Regions from separate parts of the Homo sapiens genome. Here region 1 is linked to region 2. Evidence: fine-mapped QTL for protein levels in blood plasma. A gene starts in region 2. The other region holds a variant in brackets. All regions are shown on one strand. Distances are from middle to middle. Region 1 overlaps LOC124901969 (a long non-coding RNA gene). Region 2 holds the start of CA1 (carbonic anhydrase 1).

What was found. A credible set is the group of variants that fine-mapping cannot tell apart. PIP is the chance, under the fine-mapping model, that this variant and not a neighbour inherited with it causes the effect. The UK Biobank Pharma Proteomics Project read protein levels with antibody pairs (Olink). The fine-mapping took linkage between variants from a reference panel, not from the people measured, so its PIPs are less certain.
Region 1: its variant is the best candidate, but not a certain one, in a credible set for the plasma level of the CA1 protein (UK Biobank, PIP 0.80).

What each region holds. Positions count from the first base shown.
Region 1 is chr8:85,228,340-85,236,860 of GRCh38, reverse strand. LOC124901969 (a long non-coding RNA gene) reads right to left here. Exons shown (of 4, transcript XR_007060985.1): 3 at 6,661-6,776. It overlaps LOC105375936 (a long non-coding RNA gene), which reads left to right. Exons shown (of 3, transcript XR_929126.3): 2 at 7,751-7,894. Among named protein-coding and RNA genes, the nearest start is that of RBIS, 12 kb to the right of the region's middle. The variant CTG/G (reference allele first, on the strand shown) is at 3,201.
Region 2 is chr8:85,373,655-85,382,175 of GRCh38, reverse strand. CA1 (carbonic anhydrase 1) reads left to right here and starts at 4,063. Exons shown (of 8, transcript NM_001128831.4): 1 at 4,063-4,130. RefSeq lists a promoter at 3,244-4,035.

The sequences.
Region 1 (8,521 bases), 150 kb after region 2:
TCCAATTTGTGCCCAGCTTCCTTTATTCATTGAGTCCTGTGATTTGTACAACCAGGATGTACTACCCACAAGAATGTCTTATCACTTGATAGCTTGTGGAGATTGTTGACTTTATGGAGCTGATACTATATGGGGTTTCGATTTCTTTATTTTCTTATTCCTAAGGTTATCCTAAGGTTAGTCTTACATAATGCAATCTCCCAAAGAGGAATTTGAGACTCAAAAGGGTTAAAGGACTTTCTCAGGTGACCAAGGTTTCACACCAAGATGAGGACTCTCAGACCAAAATTGAAAGGATAACTTCAATAAATCTCTTCCCCAGTCACCTCTCCAATGATAGCTTTCGGAAACTAGAGCCAAACATTTCTTTGTCCTATATTGTCAGATAAGAACACATTGCTAAAACCCAATTTCTACATTTTTGTTCTTTTGTTTAATTTTATACAGTTTTCTAATCGAAATTTATCTACACCCTATTTTGTAGTGTTTCATATCTTATTTGTGCATATTACAAAAGTAGGTAAAGTGTGAAAGAGAAAAAGGAAGCATCAAGACTATTTGAAAGGAAATACACTTGTATAAACATCAGATCAGTGTTGAAAAGTCCAGATAATTCATGCCAAAGTAATTCGGCTGTTAAAGAATTTAGTAGTTCCTTGGCCTAGAATGAATAAGTCAATGTCATTCTATTGCTGTCAACTCTTTGAAATATAACCACAGAGCGATATTAGGGGCATGACGGCATTCTGTCATCAGCTCTTGTAAGGTTTATCTATTCCTTTCTGTCCTCTAGAAAAGGAAGATTTGTTCCTTTTTTTTTTTTTTTTTTTTTTGAGACAGAGTCTCACTCTGTTGCCCAATCTGGAGTATAGTGGCACAATCTCAGCTCACCACAACCCCCGCCTCCCGGGTTCAAGTGATTCTCCTGCTTCAGCCTCCTGAGTAGCTGGGACTACAGGCATGGACCACCACACCTGGCTAATTTTTGTATTTTTAGTAGAGACGGAGTTTCACCACGTTGGCTTTGAACTCCTGACCTCAGGTGATCCACCTGCCTTGGCCTCTAAACGTGCTGTGGTTACAGGTGTGAGCCACCATCCCCCTGGCCGGACAGTTTGTTCTATGAAAAGCAGTACCCATATCCCCATCTCACCACCGAGGAAGGTGTGATTTACCCTCATTCCAAGAAATTCTGACCTGGTTGCCACCATTTCACTACTGAAAGCTTGCTGCACTAGCCCTATGTGCCTAGCAAAACCTTGCACTCTTGCCAAACATATAATATTTTATCCCTTACAGCCTCCATTGCCAACTCCATTCACTCTTCTTTATTATTGCCATCAGCATACTAACATGTTCTGGAATTTCTTCTCATTAGCAGGAAACTTTCTTCCTGAATTTACATTTTCCATTTGCTACCCACCCATGCTCTCTGGAATTCCTTGGGTTCTTCTTTCTATACTCAACTGTATTATGTATTAGTTAGGGTTCTCCAAAACCATGTATACGTATTGAGGGAGAAAATGAGATTTATTATTAAAAATGGCTCACTTCATTATGAAGCCTGACAAGTCCCAAGATATTCAGAGTGAGTAGGCAAGCTGGAGGCTGGAGACCCAGGAGAGCTGATGGTGTAGTTTCAGTCCAGAGCCCAGCAGGCTCAAGACCCCAGGTAAAGCCATTGTTTCAGTTTGAATCCTAGAGTAGGAAAAAGCCGATGCCCTATCCCAAAGACAATCAGGCAGAAGGAAGTTTCCCTTACTTGGAAGAGGGTCAGCTTTTTTTTTTTTTCTATTCAGGCTTTCACTGATTAGATAAGGCCCAGCTCCTTAGGGAGGCAGTCCGCCTTAGTCCATCTACTGGTTGAAATGTTAATGTCCTCCAAAAACACCCTCATGTAAACATCCAGAATACTGTTCTACCAAATATCCGAGCACCTCATGGCCCAAATTGACACATACAATTAATCATCACACCAACCTTTAAATTTGGGGGTTTGGGGCCTATAATCTCTCCTCTCTCTACACTCTCCTCCTAGGCCCTTCCATCAGTTCTTATGGAAGTAATCTACCTAGCTTAGACATCCATTCCAGAACTGTCCAAGTGCTAAGCATATATGTTACTTAAATTTTTGACTAGGTACACTTTAAAAACTAAAAAGGAAAGTGAAATTATTCTTAATGATATATATTATTTAACCTAATACATCAAAAATATCATTTCAACATTAGTCAATAAAAAAAAAAAAATTAATGCACTCATGCTTGAAATCCCAGCACTTTGGGAGGCCGAGGCAGGCGGATTGCCTGAGCTCAGGAGTTCGAAACCAGCCTGGGCAACATGGCGAAACCCCGTCTCTATTAAAAATACAAAAAGTTAGCTGGGCATGGTGGTGGGTGCCTGTAATCCCAGCTACGCGGGAGGCTGAGGCAGGAGAATCGCTTGAACCCGGGAGATGAAGGTTGCAGTGAGCTGAGATCATGCCACTGCACTCCAGCCTGGGTGACAGAGTGAGACTCTGTCTCAAAAAAAATAAAATAAATAAAAATTAATGAGTGTTTCAGTTATCAATTTATTGTCTTTCACGTCTAATTTTACCCTGCATTACCAGCTCTGTGATAATGAAGCTTTAAGCATTTCTTTTTTGCAGCAAGCATAATGTTAAGCTTTCTTCAGTAGAAGGTCATTGCTGGAGAAAGGAACTTCTCTTCCTGGTTCCTGAATGCTGTGTTTTTTGTTTTATTCTTGTTCCTGCTGGGCTGCTTTCAGCAGCCACATGTGGCCGTGTATAGAGACATCCAGGCACTCCGGCCCAGCAGCACACTCAAGAGTATGCAGTCTCTCAGTAAGCTGACAACCCTAGCCCTAACCCAGTGACCACCTCACTGCCCCTCCCAAAACAAACCCCACATACTCCAGGCCTCATGCCACCCTATTGGCAAGCAGATGCCCCAACTCCCTCTGCATACCTGCCCACCAGCCCTAGTCTGCCTGCACCCCAAAGAGTGTTTCCCATGGCCTCCTGACATGGACACTGTCCACTCTAGGCTATGCATCTGTCAGCCAGAGTTGTTCCCAATGCTTTGAGTCCCTCTGCATACCTGTAGTCTTGCACACCAGTCTTAGCCCACCTGTACCCTGTTTCTCGCTTGTCTAGTAACTGTGGACCAGCTCAGACCTGGACAACCCAGCAAACTTCT[CTG/G]TCATCCACTGGGTTGCAACCGTATCTTCTCCAGTGATCTGAATCCCTTTGGAACGGAGGCTGGCATCCAAGTTTGTCCCTCATTAGAAACTTCCTTAGCCTCGGGATATTGTTTAGAGTTATCTTTTACATCTTTATAGTTGCCCCATTATACTTAATAATTCTTTACAGTAAACTTTCCCTGTTCAAATTACTGTGTGATTTGTCTCCTGATTGGATCTTAACTGATACTATCATTTATCTTTTACCTTCTTTGTTCTTACAAAGAGTTCCAAATCTGGTGTACATTTTATTCTGACAGCACATCTCAATTCAGGGTAGCCACATTACAAGAGCTCAATAGCCATATGAGGCTAGTGGCTATTATGCTGGCGGCACAGCTCTAGATCTACTGAATTAGATCCAATGACTTCAACTTAAATTGTTCACATGGAATTATACAGTTTTTCCCTGTCCCAACTTCCCTGTCACATTTCTATCTCATCCAATGGTACCACCATCCACCAGATGCACAAACCAGAAACTTCATAGTCACATTAATTTCTGATTTTCTCTTTTTCTCTTCACCTCTAAGTTTTGTCAGTTTTAACTCCTAAGCAATCAGTTAATTTCACAGACACAAAAAAATACTCCACTATACTATAAGCCTAAAACAAAATTCAAAAGATGTATAATTTTAAAACAATCTGTATGCCCTTTCTTCCTAATCAAATTTTTTCTGCTTCTAAAAACGTATCAGGCTGGGCACGGTGGCTCATGCCTGTAATCCCAGCACTTTGGGAGGCTGAGGTGGGTGAATCACTTGAGCCTGGGCATTTGAGAACAGCCTAGGCAACATGGTGAAACCCTGTCTCCAAAAAAAAAAAAAAAATACAAAAATTAGTTGGGTGTGATGGCACAATCCTGTGGCCCCAGCTACTCAATGAGGTGCAAGGATCGCTTGAGCCCAGGAGATGGAGGCTTCAGTAAGCAGTGATCTCACCAGTGCACTCCAGCCTGGGCAACAAAGCGAGCAAGATCCTGTCTCAAAAAAAAAAAAGAGTGGCCAGGCGTGGTGGCTCACATCTGTAATCTCAGCACTTTGGGATGCCCAGGCAAGTGGATTACCCAAGGTCAGGCATTCGAGACCAGCCTGGCCAACAAGGTGAAACCCCATCTCTACTAAAAATACAAAAATTAGCTGGGCGTGCTGGTACATGCCTGTAGTCCCAGTTACTCGGGAGGCTGAGGCAGGAGAATAGTTTGAACCCAGGAGGCGGAGGTTGCAGTAAGCTGAGATTGCACCACTGCACTCCAGACTGGATGACAGAACAAGACTCTGTCTCAAAAAAAACAAAACAAAAAAACAAACAAAAAAACCCACCAAAAATGTATAAACAATTTGTGTAATAAGAATATGGCGAAACAGCCATGTCCATACACTATTGGTAGAAATGTAGAATATATGATCTTCTGGAAAAAAATTGGTAATTTAAATCAAGAATTTTAAGCGTATTCATAACTTTAGATCTTATTGATAGACACGCTGCCTGAGAAAATATTAAGAGATTCTGTCAAAGATTATTCAAACGGATGTTAATTACAGTGTATTTATAACAGAAAAAAGCTCTAGAAACAACAGAAGTGATAATGATAAGAAAAGGGTTAAAACAACTTATGTATATCAAAATGATATAATTTTTGAAAGACATTAAATGCCATATTTCCAAACTACTTATTAAAGTGTATATATATATAGATTATAAAATAGTATCTACACAGAAATTTTAATAAGCAATATAGTATATATGCCTAGAAAAAAAGATTGTAAAGAAATATATCAAAAAAGCTGGGGGCAGTGGCTCACACCTGTAATCTCAGCACTTTGGGAGGCCAAGGCAGGCGGATCACCTGAGGTCTGGAGTTCGAGACCAACCTGGCCAACATGAAGAAATTCCATCTCTACTAAAAATACAAGTTAGTGGACATGGTGGTGCATGCCTGTAGTCCCAGCTACACAGGAGGCTGAGGCAGGAGAATCGCTTGAACCTGGAGGCGGAGGTTGCAGTGAGTCGAGATCGCACCACTGCACTCCAGCCTGGGCAACAGAGTGCAACACTGCCTCAAAAATTAATAACAATAATAATTAAAGAAAGAAAGAATGGGCCAGGTGCAGCTCATGCCTGTAATCGCAGCACTTTGGGAGGCCAAGGAGTGTGGATCACGAGATCAGGAGATCGAGACCATCCTGGCTAACATGGTGAAACGTGTCTCTACTAAAATACAAAAAAATTAGCTGGGCGTGGTGGCAGGTGTCTGTAGTCCCAGCTACTCGGGAGGCTGAGGCAGGAGAATGGCGTGAACCCAGGAGGCAGAGCTTGCAGTGAGCCTAGATTGCACCACTGCACTCCAGCCTGGGCGACAGAGCAAGACTCCATCTCAAAAACAAAAACAAAAACAAAAACAAAACAAAACAAAAGACAGAATAAACTAACAAAAGCAAAGTACTTGCAATGACCTGCAGAACCCTATGTGACCCCCTTCAGCCGTGCTGCTTTCTGTTCATTAATCATGCCACGCTGTCTTCTGCTCTTGGCCTTTCTGCCTGGAGCACCTTCCCCCTAAATATCTGCAAGACCCACTCCTTCACCTCTTTCAAGCATTCTCTCAGTTTTTGACTGTCTGCTTTGGTCTGTGTAAACTCTGAAAATAACACTTTCAACTGAAACACAAAATCATAGTTGAGACTTAGATAGTTGAGAGTTTACATTATCAATTAAACTTGATAATTACAAAGCACTGCATCCTTTCATTTTTTTAAATTTAATAGCACACTGCCTTCTTTGCCTTTGCCAACTTTCTGAGTTTTAAATATGCACCTGCTAAATATTTCACAGTTCCTCTATTTTAACCATTACTTGCATTTTAACCAAGTATCATAAAGAGTGAAAAAGTACGACGCATGCCCTTGGAATATTTTTATTGTCTTTGTGACATGTATTTGACCATTCTTAACCCTCGAAGATTTCAAATGCAAGCCCTTCTTTGTGACTATAATTAGTTCAGGTTCAAGATCCCTAGGCATTTGGCCAGGAGATTATTCTAAATCAAATTTGCTTAATTAAATTAATAGTATATTTGTGGAGCACCTATCACATCCAAGAAGCAGTGCTACAAGAAGACGAAAAGTGTTCTTCTAGGTATATCTTGGCCATGCTAACAGTGACAGTGCTTTACAATAATTTTTAGTGTATGGCTACAAACCCTTGCCTATTTTTACATTTCAGGAAGTTTTATTTCATTCAGCAAATGCTTCTTTCACACCTCCTATGTCACAGAAGTATGTATTCATGAATGGAAATCCAAGGTGACTTTTTTTTCTGGGCCCTGAAAAGAGCACGAGAGAAAAGCATGCATAAAAGTAACATGGTATTTGAATACAGAAACCATACCATGAAAAGCTAAAGCCTGTGACTCACCTCTTGCAGCTTCATAGTAATCTACTGATGCGAGTCACTTTTCCTTCACTGCAAAGCATTAACCATCTCTTTTCATTCACTGGTTCTTACCCTCCAGATATTTCCAGGAATTTGACCTAGAGAGAAAGGTGGTGGATCCTGTTTATTCTGCTGCATTTTCTTATATAGGCTGTGTCATAAATTTTCATTTATAGTCTAGAAATAAATGCTCCTGTCATTAGGGGGTTAAAAAAAGATTCCCCATTTCCACAATCAATCATGAAAATGTTCATCTGATCGGTTCCTCATAAGAAATGTAGATTTCTTTTCCTTTCCTTCCTTCCTTCCTTCCATTCTTCCTACCTTCCTTCCTTCCTTTCCTCCCTCCCTCCCTTCCTCTTTTTTCTTTCATTATTTTGAGGCAGGGTCTTGCTCTGTCACCCAGGTTGGAGTGCAGTGACACAATCATGGCTTGCTGCTGCCTCAACCTCCCAAGCTCAGCTTCCTCCCACCTCAGCTTCCTGAGGAGCTGAGACTACAGGTGCACACTACCGTGTCTAACTAATTTTGTATTTTTGGTAGAAATAAGGTGTTGATATGTTGCCCAGTCTGGTCTCAAACTCCTGGGCTCAAGTGATCCTCCTGCCTTGGCCTCCAAAAGTGCTGGGATTACAGGCATGAGCCACTGTGCCTGGCCAAGAAATAAAAATTTCATTGGAAAGTAGCTCTAATATTTATTTGACCCATGAAGAAACTACACGGAAATGCAGACTGCATATAATTTTTATTGACTGTTTGTCATGCATTGGCTGCTCAGAGGAGCCATAGTGGGTGCACAGTCATCTAAGGATATCTATCTCCTCGTTCGGCTTCATCACTTATTTCCTGAACCACTACTTCCCTGCCTGCAACCATTCCTTCTTCTAAGCTACTTTCATGCAGCTAACAAAATTATTCCCTACAATAAGCAATCTCATGTGTGTTTTGGCGGGTGGGGTGTGGAGAGGAGGACAAGTCCTTCGTTGCCTATAGAATAAAATCTCAAACTCTGCTATCTGCTTCTCTGCCTCCCTCCCTTTCTCTATTCCTTTTTCCTTCCTTCCTTCTTAAGTCTAAAAGACATTAGGTCTTATAAGGAGGAGAGAGACGGCATCAGCCCACAGAAAGCAAGAGAGTGAACAGGGTGGGGAAACCACCTATTCAGGTGGCAGCACATGAAGATGGCCGCAGCCCAGGTGGATGAGAGTCCATGGGGGTAAGGAGGACACCTGCATGTCATGGAGGTAGGGGAAGTAGGTGGCAACAGTGAAAGAAGACTGGTTACATACAGGAAGATGAACCAAATGAGTACATATATTTCAAATAAGGGAGCCAGGAAAAAATGACAACAATGGAATGGTAGAAAACTAAAACCTTTGGTATTCAAATGAAATTAGAGATATCAGCATGAACTCATGGTGTGTACATATAGAAATAAATACAGTTGATGTGCCGTGTGAATACTGATAGATAGGTAGATAGACAAATAGTATGTACACACATGCATGTATTTCCTAGCTATGGTCACTGCAAAGACATGGAAGCATCAACTTCCCAGATCGTGGTTTCTTTGCTTTTTTTTTTTTTTTTTTTAGATGAAGTTTCACTCTTGTCACCCAGGCTGGAGTGCAATGGCGCGATCTCGGCTCACTGCAACCTCTGCCTCCTGGGTTTAAGTTATTCTCCTGCCTCAGCCTCCCGAAGAGCTGGGATTACAGGCGCCTGCCACCATGCCTGGCTAATTTTTTTTGTATTTTAGTAGAGACAGAGTTTCACCATGTTGGCCAGGCTGGTCTTGAACTCCAAACCTCAGGTAACCCGCCCACCTCGGCCTCCCAAAGTG
Region 2 (8,521 bases):
GCCCCAGTGTGTGCTGTTCCCCTCCCTGTGTCCACGTGTTCTCATTTTTCAGCTCCCACTTATAAGTGAGAACACGAGGTGTTTGGTTTTCTGTTCCTGTATTAGTTTGCTGAGGATAATGGCTTTGAGCTCCAGGATACAAAATCAATGTGCAAAAATCACAAGCATTCCTATACACTAACAGTAGACAAGCAGAGAGTCAAATCATGAATGAACTCTCATTCACAACTGCTGCAAAGAGAATAAAATATCTAGGAATACAGCTAACAAGGAAAGTGAAGGATCTCTTCAAAGAGAACTAAAAACCACTGCTCAATGAAATCTGAGAGGACACAAACAAATGGAAAAACATGCCATGCTCATGGATAGGAAGAATCAATATCATGAAAATGGCCAAAATGTCCAAAGTGATTTATAGATTTAATGCTATTCCCATCAAGCTACCGTTGACTTTCTTCACAGAACTAGAAAAAAACTACTTTAAAAGTAATGTGGAACCAAAAAAGAGCCCATATAGCCAAGACAATCCTAAGCAAAAACAACAAAGATGGAGGCATCACGTTACCCTACTTCAAACTATACTACAAGTTTACAGTAACCAAAGCAGCATGGTACTGGTACAAAAACAGACACATAGACCAATGGAATAGAATAGAGATCTCAGAAATAAGACTGCACATCTACAACCATCTGATCTTTGACAAATCTGGCAAAAACAAGTAATGGGGAAAGGATTCCTTATTTAGTAAGTGGTGCTGGGAGAACTGGCTAGCCATATGCAGAAAATTGAAACTTAACCCCTTCCTCACATCTTACACAAAATTAACTCAAGATGAATTAAAGACTTAAATGAAAACCCAAAAGTAAAAAAAAAAACAAAAAACCCTAGAAGAAAATCCAGGCAATACCATTCATAACATAGGCATAGGCAAAGATTTCATGACAAAAATGTCAAAAGCAAAAATTGACAAATGGGATCTAATTAAACTAAAGAGCTTCTGCACTGCAAAAGGAGCTATCATTAGAGCAAACAGGTGACCTACAGAGTGGGAGAAAATTTTTGCAATCTATCTATCTGACAAAGGTCTAATATCCAGAATCTTCAAGGAACTTAAACAAATTTATAAGAAAAAAAATGAACAACCCCATTAAAAAGTGGGCAAAGCCCATTAACAAACACTTCTCAAAAGAAGACAAATATGTGGTCAAGAAACATAAAAAAAGCTCAACCTCACTGATCATTACAGGAATGCACATCAAAACCACAATGAGATATGATCTCACACCTGTCAGAATGGTGATTATTAAAAAGTCAAGAAACAACAGATGCTGGCGAGGCTATGGAGAAATAGGAGTGCTTTTCCACTGTTGGTGAGAATGTAAATTAGTTCCACCATTGTGGAAGACATTGTAGCAATTCCTTAAAGACCTAGAACCAGAAACAGCATTTGACACAGCAATCTCATTACTGGGTATATACACCCAAAAGAATATAAATCATTCTATTATAAAGATACATGCTTATGTATGTTAATTGCAGCACTATTCACAATAACAAAGATGTGGAATCAACCCAAATGCCCATCAATGATAGACTGGATAAAGAAAATGTGGTACATATACACCATGGAATACTACGCCACCATAAAAAGGAACAAGATCCTGTCCTTTGTAGGGACATTTAGCTGCCTTTAATTGAGACTTTGATTGTACCATTCAGATTCTGGCACTTTGGTCCAATTATAGGAGTATTCTGGATGCCAGCATCTTTGCTAGCTGTGCACCCACAAAGCCTTTGACTTAAAAGACATTTGTGAATCAAGCTCCCAGGACCCAACATTGTATTCAAATTCTACAAATGACTCAGCCCCATTATAACACCACAGAGTCACAAAAATACAGCCCACATCAACCCTAGTGGGTATCCATGTGGGAAGGATACCCTAGTCCGACACTGCCCTAGCTCAAGACCATGCCATTAAAGATGACATGCCCCCTGCCTCCCAACCAACTATGGGCAGTGCCAACTACACTAGCACATGGAATGTCTTGCCATTCATAGGAGACCAGAGGCTCTTGGTTTTCCAGTAGCTGGTTACACTGCTGACTTCTGTTTTAAAAAAGCAAGACCCACAACACTGGAGTAACTTTCCAGACTTTACAGACACCTATAAAACTCGAAGTTCTGCTCTCTGTGATTGTAATTCCACTCTATACCTGGCTTAGCCCTTATGAGACCAAGTCCAATACCTCCCTAATGCTTCTAAGATTCAGGTTCCTGCTAATCCCACCCACTTCTCCTGCCTAAAGGGTAACCTGACTGAAGTATTCCACCCTGTGTGCTCTCCTAGGAGTAAAAGGAGCATCTGCTGGTCTCCGACTGTCAAACCATTTATTCCCTTCCATCCTCCTCGCCTTCCCTTTCTCATTGTCAGTATCCCTACTCCCACCCCTATCTTTTCCGTCCTAACAGCATCTTCTCCTCTTGCCCTCTAAAAGACTACGTAAGTAAAATTCAAACCCACTGCCCCAGCTTCTCTGATATTTATACAGACATCCAAAATACAAACACATTTGACTGAAGTAGGCTCTTCTGCACTGACTATCCATAACTCATCACCCTGCTTCCACATATCCCACATCACACATTTACCCAACTGATAATTGCCCCAGAGATGAAAAATACTGAGAAATGAAAACCACTTCCAAACGGCCTTTTCTTCTGTATTGGGGTGCCCCCTCATGGCAAGTGGCAACTGCACTCGTATTTCCTCAATACATACCACAGATGGGCTACCCAATGAACAACTGCATATTCTCACCATATGCCCAACAAAAGCCACTGTCTTCCTCCAGTCCCATTCTTTAGTAATTTCCCTTTACCTAAATCAAGGTACAATTTTCCAGTCTAATGGTAATGCCACAAAACTATATTGTGTCCCAACCAACAAGGGTGTTTATCCCCTCTCCTTTGCCCTTCCATTACTCTGAAACTGGAAGCCACGAGATGCATTCTGGCCTCTCTTGGCATTCCTATTTATATAAATGTTAATTATTCTTTCCCTACCCAGCCAAATGTCATTGATGTGCCACATTTGTACCTATAATACTGGGACTCACCACTGCTCTGGGACTTGCTGCGATGGCCACAAGGACCATTGCTTTAGCCCAACAGTCAAAAATAATTGATGCTACCCTACAAATGTCCAAAACTCTAGTATATCATATTTCTAAGTTACAGCAAATATTAGTCCTGCTAAACCAGGGAGCTTTGGCAAAAATGTTTTTTGACAGTAAATTTGTCCTTGATTATATATTAACTAGTCAAAGAGGTGTTTGTAACATTATTAGAGCTTCTTGTTGTAGGTGGGTTAACACCACCAATCAAGAGGTCATTCTAACAGAAAGCCTGGATCAGAAAACCATCACCCTAAAAAAACATGCCTTACATATTTAACACACTCTGAAATCCAGTCAAAATATGACTAAAGGCCCTTGCCATGACTGATGTATTCTCCTGGCCAACGCCAAACAAATGGGAGCCTGGTTACGAGTCAGCCTTCAGGGACTTGTCACATTTCTACTTGGTTTCTTCCTTGTTATTGTCATAATAAAATGTTTTCTATGCTGTTTAGTGCAACTTAGGCCCTATTCTGTAGAAGTCTCCTCTACTATTCAGGCCACTCAAACACCCCAAATAATTGAGTTCAAAATCGACATCAAGATATAAAGGAATCAGTGACTAAATATATTTCATATATGGTATTTTTATTGATTATTGTGCTGTCTTGACCTAGTATGGAGGCCTTGGCTAGAGGCTGGTCAGTTTCCTCTCTTGAGCAGCTGATTAAATCCACACCCCAACCACTTCCCTTATCAGGTTCTCACACTCTGGGGCCACTATGTACCCACTCTAATCACCACAGGGCCAGACATCAGACAATTAAGGACAGCGCCCATGCCCCAAAGCCCGCCAAAATTATGCAAATTATTCAAAATTATTCAACCTAGCTAACCCCACCCTTTTTGCTGTACATAAGCTGCCCATTCCCCCTCCAGCCTGTGGTACCCAGTCCTCAGGTGCAACCCCCTGCGTGGTCCTCTGTGGCAGCCTTCTCTCATTCAGAGCTGTAAGTAACAAAGACTTCTGCCTTTCATCTAGCTGAGCATTGAAGTGTTTTATCCGACTGCCAAAAGAATCTTTAAATCTTGTAAAATACAGTCCTACCTACATCTTAATTACTATTCAATGAATGAAAGCTGCAAAGCTTAAAAAACCTTTATAGTTTTTCTAAACCTTTTATATTTATCAAGCAGATCTCTGTAAATCTGTAAATCTGAAAAGGATAATATAAATTACCTTTTTTTTTTTTGAGACAGAGTCTCACTTGGCAGCCTAGGCTGGAGTGCAGTGGCACCATCTCTGCTAACTGCAACCTCTGCCTCCCAGGTTCAAGTGATTCTCCTGCCTCAGCCTCCCGAGTAGCTGGGATTACAGGCACATGCCACCACACCTGGCTAATTACTGTATTTTTAGTAGAGGGGATTTCACCATGTTTGCAAGGCTGGTCTCGAACTACTGACCTCAGGTGATCTGCCCTCCTCAGCCTCCCAAAGTGCTGGGACTAGAGGCGTGAGCCACTGTGCCCAGCCAATATAAATTACCATTTAAAATTATTCCATGACTAATGTTCAATTTGACGTTAATTCCCCTAAACAAATAATGCAATTGATAGACTTGGTTAATTAAGTTCCTTTAAATATTATATATTATATCAATTACAAATTTAGTCTACCTGAATCTCTCAAGCATTTCAAATGCCTGACACATTAGTATCTTTTATACATCTTGCAAGTTTATAAAAGGAGGGAGGGGGCTCTAATAATTAAAGCAATTCCAGTAAAAGTAATAAACCAAATTTATGCAGTAGTAAGTTATGTTCTCTTAAACATTCAAACACTGTGTATAGACTGAAGAAAATGCTCTTGTACTTTAAAATTGAAATTATATGGTTCATATATCTGATTTTCTAATATATCAGGTTATATTAAATGCTTCAAGTAACTTAACAAACAATCTTTCATAGGTTATCTCAAGGATTAAATAATTAAATTTCTAAAGTTAATACAAATGTGTTAATATTGTGGATTTGACTAACTTCAACATTCTTATAGTTATTTCTCTCTTCTCCCAGTATTGTAAATCCACTTATGCAAATAAAGAGAATAGATAGATGTATGATCTGATTGGGCTGAGGATACTGTATCAGAGAATCAAGGCCAGGGTTGAAGTGTCAGTTAAAGAATTTGAGAGAGGGTCAGGGACCTAATTAGGTACCACACATGCCCAGGGTGCCTCTACACGACCCGAAAGTCAATCTGCTGGGCATCTCCTTGAGGTAACAGAGCTTTCCAAATTCACACTGTTTCATGCAGTCTAGTATATCATGTGTACCCTTACCTAGTTTTATTTATTTATTTATTTATTTATTTATTTATTTATTTATTTATTTATTTTTGAGACAATTTCTCTGTCACCAGGCTGGAGTGCAGTGGTGTGATCTCAGCTCACTGTAACCTCTGCCTCCTGGGTTCAAGCAATTCTCTTGCCTCAGTCTCCGGAGTACCTGGGACTACAGGCATGTGCCACCACGCCCGTCTAATTTTTGTATTTTTAGTAGAGACAGGGTTTCACCATGTTGGCCAGGATTGTCTCAATCTCTTGACCTCTGATGATCCGCCTACCTCGGCCTCCCAAAGTGCTGGGATTATAGGTGTGAGGCACCGTGCCCGGCCCCCTTACCCAATTTTTAAAGTTACCTCTTTTATAACTTTTTTGTTTTTTTGAGACAGAATCTCACTCTGTCACCCAGGCTGGAGTGTAGTGGCATGATCTCTGCTCACTGCAACCTCTGCCTCCCGGTTCAAGCAATTCTCGTGTCTCAGCCTCCCGAGTAGCTGGGATTACAAGTATGCGCTACCACACCCGGCCAATTTTTGTATTTTTAGTAGAGATGGGGTTTCGCCATGTTGGCCAGGCTGGTCCTGAACTCCTAACCTCAAGCGATCCACCAGCTTGGACCTTCCAAAGTACTGGGATTAAAGGCATGAGCCACCATGCCCAGCTTCTTTTATAACTTATAACTGTGTAATTTGATAGTTGAAATTCCCTCTATAGGATATTATTCACTACTCGACTGAATTCAATCTCTTTATTGCCTGATTGGAGTCAACTTGCTTTTTACATGTTTTATATCCAGTTCAATATCAAGAATCCTTTTGTCATTTTATTGACCATTCCCTACGTGATTAACACTATCTACTGAATACTGTATCTCAGAATATTACCTACATTTGCATCAAGCTCATGATCTATAGCTCACCTACATCCACCATTCTATTTTTGAAATTTGGGATAGCATGTGCCAGGATACAGTTGTTCTGCCTGAGTCTTCACTGCACCTCGAGTTATTTTGAGGTTCATCCATCTTATCTGAACTTTCTCCGTGCTCTGGATTTTATTCCTCTCCAAGAGACACAAACTCATTTAGAGCATGTAGATCTTCCCTTGGGATGTTTCTGCCTATTTTATTCCTTGTTTCTATCATGCCAACATTTGTTCTAATCTTTCTATTTGTTCTAATCTTTTTTTTTTTTCAAAAGAAAAGGAAAAAAACAGGTATTTTATGGCACCACTGGTCAGTGTAGGGCGGGTGGGTGGCACATGGCATTAGATGTGCTAGTTGGGCAGAGCTGTGCTGTTAATTTTCTGAAAGTGGTAACAAAATACATAAAATAAAACAGTGCAATGCCAGGACAGGCCAGCATGCGATAGGTGAGTTCTTCCCTCCGAAGCCTTCTTTCCAGGCTGTTTCATGTGTCTTTCTTTAGTGTGTCCTTCCTGTCTAATTAGGTTTCTCTCATTGCCCTTGTCCTAATGTTTTACAATTATCTAAGGTGGAATAGCACAGTGGAGAGAAGCAAAAATGTTGGAGTGAGACAGACTTAGGCAGAGGTGGCAATATTGTAAAAATAATGATGCTTAAGCTGTAAGACCATTCATTGCTTGATTTACTTCCAAGATCCCAGAAGGGCACAAGAAATGTGTTCACACAATCATATGTTTTATATAAAATTTGCAAAAGATATTTAACCACAATCAGTCAACCCCATTATCATTTTACTCTGACTGTACGGCATCATATTTCCTGTATCAGGTGGTATTGGAGGGGCTGTGGGCATTTTTGAGACCCAAATGGGGAAAGTTGAGTTGAGAATAATTTTAGTTTGGCTTTAGTGGGTCATATTTATGTGGGTATCAGTCATTTCTGTATATTGATAATTTATTGCTAGCCATTCAGGGTAGCATCCACTATGCCAAAACAAATATGCAGGGCCAGAAGTCATATTGAAAAGTGAAAGTGTGCTTCCTAATGGCTCCCAGGTTCAGAAATTTGTAGGTTATTGAAGAGAAACAGATGGTGAAATGCACAGAGACAGAGCTAATCGAGGGAAAATAATTTCAATCATCCAGTGTGTAAAGCTGCAGGCAGAGAATTTGGTTTTAGAATTTGACCAGAAAACCTAGTTAAGACAGGTTCTCTCAGGAATGTATCTGATAATGTCTTACGTACGATTAAAACCACATCATATGTTACAAAATTTTTTTGATGAAAATAGTACAAAATTAAAGAATCCTGTGTATTAAGACACAAACCTATAGCAGTACTTCAAATGTGTGTGAAGTTTTATGAATCCCAGTATTAATAAGAACAAACAAAAATTTTAATCAACCATGCTTGAAATAAGACTGAAATATCTTTCTATTCTCTCTACAGAAAATAATATAAAATTTTTGCTATATGAAGAGATAATCCAGAATTATGAAATTAAAATATAGATAAAAGCTCTTAGAGGATTGTGTCTGGCAGTGGCTGAATATGAAATATTGTTTTTTAGATTTTGTGATATTTTTGATATTTAACTTTGTAAAATATTTGATTTATTATAAATCATTTTCTTGTTCTAAATAGATATTCACTTTTGTCACTAATTTTATTATTAATTTTGTATTCTTTTTGTGGTAAAATTAAATTTACTACTTTAAACATTTTAAGGTATACAGGTCTGTGGCATTAAGTACATTGACGTTGCTGTGCAACCCCCATCGCGCATCATCTCCAGAACTTTTTCATCTTTCCAAACTGAAACTCCATATTCATTAAACAATAACTCCCCACTCCTTCCTCCCCCGAGCTCTGGCAGCAATTACTCTATTTTCTAGCTCTATAAATTTGACTATTCTAGTTATCCCATATAAGTGGAATCACACAGTATTTGTCCCTTTGTATATGGCTTATTTCACTTAGCATAGTGTCTTCAATCTTCCTCCATATTGTAGCATGTATCATTTCTTTTTAAGGCTGAATAATATTCCCTTGTATATACAGTAGTCCCCCTTATCTGTGAGGATACGTTACAAGACAATACCTGAAACCATGGCTAGTACCGAACCCTATAA